4 separate regions of the Homo sapiens genome follow, and all the other regions are reported to be linked to region 1. The links are microRNA targets in miRTarBase. Many come from high-throughput screens and were not tested one by one. Region 1 holds a microRNA gene; each other region holds the end of a gene's coding sequence.

The links. Region 1 holds the annotated microRNA hsa-miR-376a-3p (AUCAUAGAGGAAAAUCCACGU, at 881-901, shown strand). A microRNA usually pairs through its seed, bases 2 to 8, with sites in the 3' UTR of a target mRNA and lowers its output. Matches are read on the target gene's strand: a 7mer-m8 pairs with bases 2 to 8, a 7mer-A1 pairs with bases 2 to 7 and ends in A, and an 8mer does both.
Region 2: miRTarBase lists ZNF594 as a target of hsa-miR-376a-3p. Seed matches in the 3' UTR shown: 7mer-A1 at 2,256-2,262 and 7mer-A1 at 1,845-1,851.
Region 3: miRTarBase lists LEPROT as a target of hsa-miR-376a-3p. Seed matches in the 3' UTR shown: 7mer-A1 at 644-650.
Region 4: the mRNA of CZIB is a reported target of hsa-miR-376a-3p. The part of its 3' UTR that is shown has no 7-base or 8-base seed match.

What each region holds. Positions count from the first base shown.
Region 1 is chr14:101,039,238-101,042,371 of GRCh38, forward strand. It overlaps MIR376A2 (microRNA 376a-2), which reads left to right and starts at 832; the gene lies at 832-911. MIR376C (microRNA 376c) reads left to right here and starts at 453; the gene lies at 453-518. MIR654 (microRNA 654) reads left to right here and starts at 982; the gene lies at 982-1,062. It overlaps MIR376B (microRNA 376b), which reads left to right and starts at 1,199; the gene lies at 1,199-1,298. It also overlaps MIR376A1 and MIR300.
Region 2 is chr17:5,179,298-5,182,431 of GRCh38, forward strand. ZNF594 (zinc finger protein 594) reads right to left here. Exons shown (of 2, transcript NM_032530.2): 2 at 238-3,134. The coding sequence ends at 2,536. Among named protein-coding and RNA genes, the nearest start is that of ZNF594, 11 kb to the right of the region's middle.
Region 3 is chr1:65,431,354-65,434,353 of GRCh38, forward strand. LEPROT (leptin receptor overlapping transcript) reads left to right here. Exons shown (of 4, transcript NM_017526.5): 4 at 450-3,000. The coding sequence ends at 566. The region is part of intron 2 of LEPR (leptin receptor); the gene reads left to right. Among named protein-coding and RNA genes, the nearest start is that of LEPROT, 12 kb to the left of the region's middle.
Region 4 is chr1:53,212,041-53,215,174 of GRCh38, reverse strand. It overlaps CZIB (CXXC motif containing zinc binding protein), which reads left to right. Exons shown (of 8, transcript NM_017887.3): 8 at 439-1,076. The coding sequence ends at 516. CPT2 (carnitine palmitoyltransferase 2) reads right to left here. Exons shown (of 5, transcript NM_000098.3): 5 at 978-1,911. The coding sequence ends at 1,580. Among named protein-coding and RNA genes, the nearest start is that of CZIB-DT, 6.8 kb to the left of the region's middle.

The sequences.
Region 1 (3,134 bases):
CCCTGCGCTTCCCACGTGGGACTCGCAAAGTGCTCACCTGCTTCTGTTACCTTCTGTCTTTCATGAATCATGTTTGCGTTTGTGCTCTCCAGGGCTGTTCCCACTTTTCCCATCTAAAAGGTGGATGTTCCTTCTATGCTTACAGGATTTATGGTGAATCATAGAGGAAAATCCGCATTTTCAGTATCTAAGGCTGCTTTTAAAACATTTCTGAACATTTCTGAGAGGAAGGTTAGCTCCCTCCCCCATGCGGAGAGTGATGGAAGGTGAATCCCAGAACCTAAGCTCTTGTTAGCAAGGTCTGTCCTGGGACATGCGTCCTCCGCAGGGCCCATGTCACTGCCGCTAGCCCGGGAGGCCCCTGCCGACTGCACCTATCCTGTGCTGTCTTTAATTTTGATAGATTGTGCTTAGGTTCATGCTTTCCAGGACTCAATCCTTCTTTGGTATTTAAAAGGTGGATATTCCTTCTATGTTTATGTTATTTATGGTTAAACATAGAGGAAATTCCACGTTTTCAGTATCAAATGCTGCTTGGAAACATTCCTGGACTGAAACCACCATCAGGGAAGAGACAATAAAGTCCCCCCCCCCACTCCAGGGTAAGTGGAAAGTCGGTGGACCTCAGAACATGTGCTGAATTCGTGCCATATGTCTGCGGACCACCCACCCGCCTTGAGGAGACCCCTCTCGCAAGCTGCCCGCTCGGCCAAGCGGCTGGGCTCCGTCGTCATTTTCTCCATGAGGCCGAATGCTCTCCTCTGTGCTATGTTACTTTTGTGTTTGATGGATTGTACTTAGGTTCGTGCTTTCCGGGATGAAACCTTCTTTGGTATTTAAAAGGTAGATTTTCCTTCTATGGTTACGTGTTTGATGGTTAATCATAGAGGAAAATCCACGTTTTCAGTATCAAATGCTGCCTTGGGATCATGGCTGGACTGAAGCCACCATCAGGGACGTGAGGTGGGGCTGAGCCCTCCAGGGTAAGTGGAAAGATGGTGGGCCGCAGAACATGTGCTGAGTTCGTGCCATATGTCTGCTGACCATCACCTTTAGAAGCCCCCTTTCGCTGAGGAGCCAGCTTGGTGCACAGGCTGTGGTGTGTTGTCACAGCTATGCTACGGGACTGAAAACGGTTGCTTTACTGTCTTGCTTCCATTTTCCATGAACTGTGTTCAGATTTGTCCTTTCCAGAGCCCAGTCCTTCTTTGGTATTTAAAACGTGGATATTCCTTCTATGTTTACGTGATTCCTGGTTAATCATAGAGGAAAATCCATGTTTTCAGTATCAAATGCTGCTTTGGAAATGTTTCTGGAAGAGACCGTAGGGCCTGAGTAGGTGCAAAGATGGTAGGCCGCACGTCGTATCTGAATGAACGGGGTATGCCCGAGAACCATCTCGAGACGCCAACTTGGTGAAGATTAAATTGTGGGTCTCGTGGTGCCAGTTCTTCCCTGGAAGCTCGTCTGCCTCATGTGACTTTCTTTTCTGATGACTCAAGCACAGGTGCACGCTTTCCTGGATGGAATCCTTCTTTGGTATTTAAAAGGTAGATTCTCCTTCTATGAGTACATTATTTATGATTAATCATAGAGGAAAATCCACGTTTTCAGTATCAAATGCTGCTTTGAAAACCTCGGAGGACGTGAAGTCGCCATGGAAGAGGAGATGTTATCTGTACCCCTCCTGGGTACAGGACGGACAGACACAGAATTGTACTTTGTATGAAATACGCCGTCAGCTTCTCTGCTGTTTGCTCACTGCCCTTGGTGCACACATAATGTGTTGTTACAAGGCTGTGTTCTCAGTATTGCCTCATTGACCTTGAATGAAGTTTGTTCTCTGTATGTTTACCATGATTGCAATGCATTTTCTGGAATGAACCTCTTTTACTGTGACTAGTTGTACCTTAGAGAATACCTGAGTGGGCTGTCAATTTCAGGAAGGGGCACTGCTTCAGGGGCTATGGAAGGAATAGATGTGTGATTCACCCACGGGCCTGCACTTCACACCTCGGTGTGCTGCTCTCACCATGCAGATCCCATCTGTGTCTCTAAGGCTTGCTCCTGGAGCTGGTGGCAACTTAGTCACAGAGGAAATGGCCTTCCTGTCACTGCCATCATTTGCTACTTGAAGAGAGGTAATCCTTCACGCATTTGCTTTACTTGCAATGATTATACAAGGGCAGACTCTCTCTGGGGAGCAAATCCTGCCTGGGAAGCCTTCTTGGGAACAAGGCTGACTCCAGCAACCTGTTAGATGGCCAGGATAGCCCTGGGGTGTGGATGGTTGACCACAGGGCATGTGCCTCTGTCTTGCTGTTTGTGACCTGGTTCTCTGACCCTCCTCATCTCATGCTTCCTTCCAAGAACTTTCTGGAAGAGATGCTGGCTTTGGAGATGATATAGGGTTTTCTCTTCAGACCACCTGTTCTGCCTAGCAAAAAGGGCCTACCTTGGCCGGGCACGGTGGCTCACGCTTGTAACCCCAGCCCTTTGGGAGGCTGAGACGGTGGATGGCTTAAGCCCAGGAGTTCGAAACTAGCGTGGGCAACTTGGCGAAACCCCATCTCTGCAAAAAATACAAAAATTAGCTGGGTGTCATGGTGTGCGCCTGTGGTCCCAGTACTTAGGAGGTTGAGGCTGGAGGATCACTTGAGCCCGGGAGTTGGGAGGTTGTAGTGAGCCAAGATTGTGCCACTGCACTTCAGCCTGGCTGACAGAGACCCCTGTCTCAACACAATAGGTTAAAAAAAAAAGAAAAGAACAAAGGGCCTCCCTTGATGGGCCCTACTTATCACAAAGCATCCATGGGCTGCTACTCCGGCAGGTCTGCCCAGCATGATGCCAGCCTCTGAGAAGAGGTCTCGTGGTCAGTGCATCTCCCAGATACATGAAAGAATGACCGTCAGCAAAGTCAATGTCTAATGTAGATGTGGGTCATCTGGTCTACCCACTCTCCATACCTAGCCCATCCTTGGAGTGACTTTTGGACCTCACTGTCCACTTGAGGGAAGGCCAGTCCACAGGAAGGAGGCCCCAGAGCACCCAGTGTGGCTACAGGACTTGCTGCTGGGACCTCTAAGCCCCACTGCTCTCTTAGTCCATTGGTGTCCTTTAGGGATTCTTGCCAA
Region 2 (3,134 bases), not on the chromosome of region 1:
TGCTGGCTACAGGTGGATGATGCCCACCTGGCTGCCAATGACTTCTGCACCAAGCGAGGCTGGGTCTCTGGAGCTGCACCAGGGGCTGGACAAGCTGACCCTGGCCGGAGCCAACCTGGAGATGCAGCCTGAGAACCTCAAGGAGGACCTGGTCTACCTGAAGAAGATTCAACAATGACTATCTTTCTTCAGCCCCATCTAATTACGGCCCCTGGCACATACTAAACAGTCACTAAGTAATTCTTAAATAACTTTTATTTCAACATTCAGTTAAAAACATTCCATACTGTAACAAAAATTTCAATCTTTCAAAAGTCCAATACCCTTAGTTTGATTCAAGCTCCATCAAAGATGAATTGGTTAGTTTTTAATCTGGAGTTTACAAGTCATAGTTAATATTTCAAAAAGCCTAACATAGACGATATGTTTGCCCACAAAAGGAATAAAAAGACTAATGAAAATGGTAAATTATTTGCTTTGGGCTGGAATTTTAGTACCTAGGTCTGCCTACATGGTGCCAGTCAGAAGCATGATTTGTGTTGTACATGCCTTTATGTAGCAAAATATAATTCTTTAATAAATGCAGTTTGGTAAACATAATCTTTTAAGACACAGGACATAGGGGAGTAAAAAGAAGGCCTTGGTGATTAAAAAGTTGGAAACCACTGAATTAAATTACCTTCAAATCCCTGTAAGTATCCTGTTTATCCTTATAAACATTAGCTCTCACTGTACAGCATTGTAAAGACAAGCAGAAGAGTTAGACTTTTTTTTTTTTTTGAGATGGAGTTTCGCACTTGTTGCCCAGGCTGGAGTGCAGTGGCATGATCTTGGCTCACCGCAACCTCCACCTCCCAGGTTCAAGTGATTCTCCTGCCCTAGCCTCGCAAGTACCTGGGACTACAGGCGTGCCCCACCATGCCTGGCTAATTTTTGTTATTTTTAGTAGAGACGGGGTTTTAGTATGTTGGCTGGGCATAGTAACTCCTCATGATCAACTCGTGACCTCGTGATCTGCCCACCTTGGCTTCCCAAAGTGCTGGATTACAGGTACGAGCCACCGCACCTGGCCTACACTCATTACTTTCACAGGGTTTTTTCCCACATTTAAACTTGTCACTCGACTAGGAAGTCAAGATTGAAATGGCTCTTTCCATGAATAATTTAGTTTTGGGGTTGTTGCCAAAGTGATTTATAATGATTTTAATAATGATAGACATCCCTTAAAACATTCTCAAGTAATTAGACCCCTGGGGCTGGTGCAGTGGCTCATGCCGGTAATCCCAACCCTTTGGGAGGCTGAGGAGGGAGGAGTGCTTGAGCCCAAGAGTTCAAGTCCAGCCTGGGCAACATAGTGAGACCTCATCTCTTTGTATGTTAAAAAATAAATAATTTAAAAAATTGTATCGTTGGGACCATATTCTAGTGTCAGTTCTGAGACAGAAAAAAAAAAGGTGATTATGTCCAAGAGCTTTTGGCTTTTCCACTTGATTATACTTACGTTTGAAAAATCCAGTAGGTATTTTCTCTGCTTTCCCACCTTCCCATGGTTTTTTTCTAATAAAACTCATTTGTAGTGCAATAAGATGTGGTCTCCATCAGACTTTTCCTAGTTTTACTGCATTCATTAGGTTTCTGCTACCTATTAGAATAGGTCCTGTTTGTAGACTCTTACAGTCTTCAAATTCCTTTCCAATGTGAAGTTTCTGGTGCTTAAGAAAAGCTGTCCACCCACTGAAGGCCTTACCACAGTTGCTACATTCAAAGGGTTTCTCTCTGGTATGAATTCTTTGATGACTGACAAGGTGTGAGTTCTGACTGAAGGCCTTCCAACATTCAGGGCATTCATAGGGTTTCTCTCCAGTATGAACACGATGGTGTCTAATAAGATCTGAGCTGCCCCTAAAAGATTTCCCACATTTGTTGCATACATAAGGTTTTTCTCCACTGTGAATTCTATGATGTCTCAGAAGGTCTGAGCTCTGATTGAAAGTTTTCCCACATTCTTTACATTCATATGGTTTCTCTCCTGTATGAGTTACCTGATGTCCGATGAGGTCTGAGCTGCCCTGGAAAGCCCTACCACACTGATTACACCAATAAGCTTTCTCTTCTTGGTGAATTTTCTGCTCTCCCCTAAGCTCCTCATCCTTGCTGAAGGTTTTCTCACGTTCTTCAAGTTTCTCTCCAGCATGCAGTCTCTGATGTTTGAGGAAAGCTGTGTGCCACATGAAGAGTTTCCCACATTCCTTACATTCATAGGGTTTCTCACCACTATGAATTCTCCGACGTTGAATAAGGAGTGAACGCCGCCTGAAGGCTTTTTCACATTCAGTGCACTGATAGGGCTTCTCTCCAGTGTGGATTTTCTGGTGTGTGACAAGGTGGGACCTCTGGCTAAAGACTTTCCCACATTCACTACATTCATGAGGTTTCTCTCCAGTATGAACACGATGGTGTTTAATAAGATCTGAGCTGCTCCTAAAAGATTCCCCACATTTATTGCATACGTAAGGTTTTTCTCCACTGTGAATTCTATGATGTCTCAGAAGGTCTGAGCTCTGATTGAGTTTTCCCACATTCTTTACATTCATATGGTTTCTCTCTTGTATGAGTTACCTGATGTCTGATGAGATCTGAGCTGCCCTGGAAGGTCCTACTACACTGATTACACCAATAAACTTTCTTTTCCTGGTGAGTTCTCTGCTCTTTTCTAAGCTCCTCATCCTTGCTGAAGGTTTTCTCACATTCTTCAAGTTTCTCTCCAGCATGCAGTCTCTGATGTTTGAGGAAAGCCGTGTGCCACATGAAGAGTTTCCCACATTCCTTACATTCATAGGGTTTCTCACCACTATGAAGTCTCCGATGTTGAATAAGGAGGGAACGCCGCCTGAAGGCATTCCCACATTCACTGCACTGATAGGGTTTCTCTCCAGTATGGATTTTCTGGTGTGTAGCAAGGTGTGACCTCTGGCTGAAGGCTTTCCCACATTCACTACATTCATAGGGTTTCTCTCCAGTATGAATACGATGGTGTTTAATAAGATCTGAGCTACCCCTAAAAGATTTCCCACATTTGTTGCATACATAAGGTTTTTCTCCACTGTGAATTCTATGATGTCTCAGAAGGTCTG
Region 3 (3,000 bases), not on the chromosome of region 1:
TGGAAAGCAGTTTTCAGTTGTATGAAGACTATTATTTAAAGTCTTTTCTTGCCTAGAAAAGAAACACACAAATTTATAACTCTACAATTTTTATTTTCCATGAAAGAAGTTGATGTGTGCAGAACTTTCAGTACCCAATATTGTAATTGCACTATTTATAATCTTACCACTTGAGTTTTACTTAAGGCAATCATTGTCAATTAAAAACAAGTAGAGAAATATGTCTAATTGGGAACATGTTAAGGATGATACCAGACTTAATTAACAAGCATCACAGAAGTAATTAGACTCATTACTGAACAGTTCATTGTCTCCTGTTACATTATTAAGCCTTTTAGCAGCTTTGTGTAACATTTCATTGGATGTTTCTAATGCAGAAAATAATAGGGATTGCAAAGAGTACAATATGAAGGAAGTAAGGATTTAATCCTTCTTTTCTTGTCTTTCAGATCAAATGGGGAGCCTGCGGCCTTGTGTTGGCAGGCAATGCAGTCATTTTCCTTACAATTCAAGGGTTTTTCCTTATATTTGGAAGAGGAGATGATTTTAGCTGGGAGCAGTGGTAGCACTTTATTCTGATTACAGTGCATTGAATTTCTTAGAACTCATACTATCTGTATACATGTGCACATGCGGCATTTTACTATGAAATTTAATATGCTGGGTTTTTTAATACCTTTATATATCATGTTCACTTTAAGAAAGACTTCATAAGTAGGAGATGAGTTTTATTCTCAGCAAATAGACCTGTCAAATTTAGATTATGTTACTCAAATTATGTTACTTGTTTGGCTGTTCATGTAGTCACGGTGCTCTCAGAAAATATATTAACGCAGTCTTGTAGGCAGCTGCCACCTTATGCAGTGCATCGAAACCTTTTGCTTGGGGATGTGCTTGGAGAGGCAGATAACGCTGAAGCAGGCCTCTCATGACCCAGGAAGGCCGGGGTGGATCCCTCTTTGTGTTGTAGTCCATGCTATTAAAAGTGTGGCCCACAGACCAAGAGCCTCAACATTTCCTAGAGCCTTATTAGAAATGCAGAATCTGAAGCCCCACTCTGGACCCAGGACATTTTGATGAGATCCAAAGGAGTTGTATGCACATGAAAGTTTGAGAAGCATCATCATAGAGAAGTAAACATCACACCCAACTTCCTTATCTTTCCAGTGGCTAAACCACTTAACCTCTCTGGGTGTTACCTGCTCATTTGTTTAAAAAAAAAAAAAAAGTCTCACCTGCTTTCATGCTGAGGACAAGTTCAGATGTTCAAGCCTATAATATTTAGGCAGTTCCTCAAATTTATGAAAAGTGTTCTCAGAATTGGGAGACAGTCAAAGGGTACAAAGCCTCAGTTAGGAGGAATAAGTGTGATTTTTTTTTAAAGATCACTTGCACAGCATGCTAAATATAGGAATAATTGAATGTATATTTCAATATTGCTAAGAGAGTAAATTTCTAATGTTCTCATAAAAAAGTTAAATATTTGAGATCATATGTTAATTAGTGTAATCATTCCACCTTATATTCAAAAATCATAAAACCGTATTGTACCCTATAAAAATATACAATAATTTGTCAATATATAATCAAAATAAAAAACAAAACATACTCTCTCCCCCAAAAAAACATCTCAGTGGGGAACAGATGTATCTTTTCATCTGAAAGACAATGCTGGGGGAAGAGCTCCACTGAGATGCGGGCAGGGAGGCTGGGCTCGAGCCAGCCCCTGCGTTAGCAGGAGGGGGAGAACAGATAGGTAACTCTTTTACATTTCCTTTATGATCTGGCACTTCTCCCCAGCTCCTTCCCTCTGCCCCCCACCCCTACTCCTCAACAGTTCTGGTTTGCCCTGACTTCTCTACGGCTCTGGCTTCTTCCCGAAGAGATATAGGAGCCATGTAAGCACGCAGTGGGTGAACTGCTTAATTTCACTACGTGTTGATGTACTTGTCTTCCGTCCTGTAGGTCTTTTCTATATAACTTTATGCCACCCTTAAATGAATCATTGGGTATACCTGTCATGTTGGATCCTGTAATCACAGTTTTCCCTGCTCACCTTTTTGTCTAAGATCTATTGAGAAAGGGAAATATGGGAAGGAGAACCATTTGATCAGAATACAACCAATAGTCTTTAAGCATTGTTAAAGTATGAAACTGAAATACATTCAAAACACTTAATCCTTGAGGCTTGTGATCTGAGTAATTAGCAGGTATGATGCTGGGACTGGAAAATAGAAAGTAATAACTAAAGGGTTAATGTGCAACGTTATTTTTTGGCCTTGTTCATGATTTTATGTTTTCAGTGTCCTGTGTACATATAGAATTGTTAAAGTTGTCATTTCCAATATTTATATTAGAAAAATTATTTAGATACTTTATAATTTTAACCGGCATTTTTAATAATGACACTTGCATTTATTGTATTGTAATAAATTTCACTTTTAACTTTAAAAGTTTAACTTTAAAATTTTTTTGTGATGTTGCCTTGCCTGAAAAGATAACAAAAATGAGAGAATTTCTTGATGTTTTAAAATGGGCAGTTTTGAGCAATAATCTGTCCTAACAGAACAGTAGCAATAAGTTTTAGGATACCATCTTGAATGTCTAGTTGGTGTGCAATAGCTTTTCTTTCTAAGATGGCAATAATGATTCATTTCTACTACATTTTGCAAAAGTGTTTTTGTTGCTTATACACATTTTCAATAACCAAGGTAGCCTTCATATGTAGCCTTAAAGCATTACCTCTTGATTGTATCTTTAGATTGATATAAAGTACTTGCATATAGAGTATTTGAAGTGATAGATTATTAGATTTGCTCTATGTCTGAAAAGAGAGCTATTCTGCAGTGCCTAAATATCATTTAAACAGTAAATATTAATAGGAAATATTGCTATATCTGAATATATAATACAAAAGTTTGATCATGGTGACACAAATGTTGGACATTTTTTTCCTTATAAAAGGCTCTTTTTTTATATATTGTACAATATATTTGGAGA
Region 4 (3,134 bases), not on the chromosome of region 1:
AGAGACCGGGTTTCACCTTGTTGGCCAGGATGGTCTCGGACCCCTGACCTGAAATGATCCACCTGCCTTGGCCTCCCAAAGTGCTGGGATTACAGGCATGAGCCACCACGCCCGGCTGCTGAGTGCTTTTAAATGTGTTACCTCATTTGATTCTTTCAACATTCAATATGAACTCCATTGTCCTTTTTTTGTTTTTGTTTTTTTTAAATAGAAGACAGGACTCGGAGAAGGGACTCAGAGAAGTTAAGTGATTTGCCCACAGTCATACAACTGAAAGAGCTAGAATTCAGGCCTGAGCTATCTGGCTCTGTTCAGGGTCATACATGTTCATGATTATTTGAGTCAGAGCCTGAGCTGGGCCTTTTAAGTCCCAGTTTTCTGCTCTCCACATGGCTGCATTCTGCGTTGTGAGGCTAACAATGCCATTTTGTTTCCCAGGACTGGACTGACTATGATGAAAAGGCCCAGGAGTCTGTGGGAATCTATGAGGTCACCCACCAGTTTGTGAAGTGCTGATCCCTCTTCCTTCCCAGTTGCCCTTAAGAACTGAGAAAGGACAAAGTACTCTAAGCAGCAGAGCCCACAGAGGCTCGTTCCTTTGACCCTTGTCTCCTGGTGGCTATACGAAACCTTCACAATCTGCATGCTGGACTTTATTACAGCTTCCCAAGCCCCATCAATAAAGCCCCTGTTCACGCTGCACTGGTGCATGAAGGTGAAGTAAGGAGGCAGCTACTCCCTCCACAAATAAGAATTCGTGCAGCAGCAGTTCACTCCTTAGGAAAATGAAGAGTATTTTTAAGGAGATGGTATCTCCCCAGTCAAGGGCAAGTTTACAGAGATGAAACCGCGATCCCACCATCACTCAATGAGCCAGAAGCCAATGGTGACGTACTGTTACCTGAACTTACTGAACTTGCTGTTGGAAAGATCTTTGTGAGGATTAGGAATTAGGTTAAAAGAAATTAAGAACCATCTTCAAGCAAAAATTAAACTTTATTTCTGCTTAAACAATAAATACACCTGAGTTAGTTTTCCAAACCTTTCCTCCTGATTAAATGCCCTTAAAACTTAAATCTCTTGTTATCTTCAGTTGTGATCTAGTCCCAAGTGGAAATTACGTTTAGCTTTAAAACCATGAATTTAAAGCTCAAGCCTGTAGCTGGCTGCCTAGGCAGCTTATGATTAGTTTCACAGAATAGCACCCACTGGCTACACAGGCCCCAGTTTTTTTTTCTTTTTTGTTTTTTTGAGACAGTCTCGCTCTGTCGCCCAGGCCGGAGTGCAGTGGTGTGATCTCAGCTCACTGCAACCTCCACCTCCTGGGTTCAAGCAATTCTGCTTCAACCTCCCAAGTAGCTGGGATTATAGGCACATGCCACCACACCCAGCTAATTTTTGTATTTTTAGTAGAGACAAGGTTTCACCATGTTGGCCAGGTTGGTCTCAAACTCCTGACCTCAAGTGATCCACCCGCCTCAGCCTCTCAAAATGCTGGGATTACAGGCATGAGCCACCATGCCCGGCCTCCCAGTTTTCATGATGAGGAAGTGATGGTAGCTTTTCATCTGCCCAGAAGTTAACTTTTGATGGATTTGCCTTCTAAGGCATCAAACATGTCTTCTAAGGCCTTCTCCACACATTGGAGAAACTCCCGGGCATTGCGGCCTGGGTAGGAAGAGACATTGCAGCCTATCCAGTTGTCATGAACAGCATACCCAACACCAAAGCCATCAGAGACCACAGGGGCAAAGCCCCCAAGGTTCACTGCTGGGCTGCTCAGTGTGCTCGTGGACAGGACATTGTGGTTTATCTGCCCGTATGCAGGGTCCAGGTAGAGCTCAGGCAAGATGATCCCTTTGGCTGCTGCCAGATGCCGCAGAGCAAACAAGTGTCGGTCAAAGCCCTGGCCTGTGAGAAACAAAATGGAAAACCAGAGTCTCAGGATGGAAAAGGACCTCAGGAAAACCTCCCAACTCACCACATGGTAGGAATACCCCTCACAGCATCCTTGAGAGTGGGGGAAGGCTCTACCTCTATGCACACCACCAACTGACTAACCTTCAGAGCAGCTCAAGCTAGATTATTTTAAATTATTTAGGAAATATATTATGTCATGTTACATTTAAAAATAGCTGTCAACAGCTGAGCTAAAAATGAGCCTAAAAGGAAAGCATAATTTTAAAGATGTGAAATCAGTTTAGTCAAAGAGTCAAGACAGTACAGGAAGACAGCTATGGACTCAAAAACTACAATAAAACTAAAAGTCTGATTCAAGTGTAAAAGAGAAGATTGAGTCAGTGGAACAAAATGGAAAGTCTGTTTGACCAGGGTTCGAATCTCAGTCTTACTACTAACTTGCTGTGTAACGGGGCCAGTGGCTTGGTTTTCTCCCTATAAAATGGAGGAAGAGAAGATTAGAATGTCTTGGAGGTCCCTTTCACTTCCAGCACTTCATAGCAACATGAAAGGACAACTATGACCCTCCAGGTCCTTTCCAGGTCTTGAATTTTATCAAAAAAAGGTAATGACGGATGACAATTGAGAAGAGCTTCTGAGATAACCTGTTTACAGAGAGCAGACACATTACAACTGAGGTGAAGCTAGTGGGGCCGTAAGTTTAGAAATCCTAAATTTTCAAAAGTGAGTCTGATAACCAATCAGTAATAGAAAAAGGTTGGGTGCAGTGGTGCATGCCTATAATCCTAGTGCTTTGGGAGGCCAAGGCAGGAGGATTGCTTGAGCCCAGGAGTTTGAGACCACCTTGGGCAATACAGTGGGACCTCATCTCTACAAAAAATTTTAAAAATTAGGCCCGGCATGGTGGCTTACGCCTATAATCCCAGCACTTTGGGAGGGTGAGGCGGGTAGATCATGAGGTCAGGAGTTTGAGACCAACCTGGCCAACATAGTGAAACCCCGTCTCTATTGAAAATATAAAAATTAGCTGGGCATGGTGGCATAAGCCTGTAGTCCCAACTACTCAGGAGGCTGAGGCAGGAGAATCGCTTGAACCCAGGAGGCAGAGGTTGCAGTGAGCTGAGATTGTGCCACTGCACTCCAGCCTGGGCAACAGAGCAAGAGTCCATCTCAAAAAAAAAAAAAAATTAAAATATCAGCTGGGCATGGTGGTG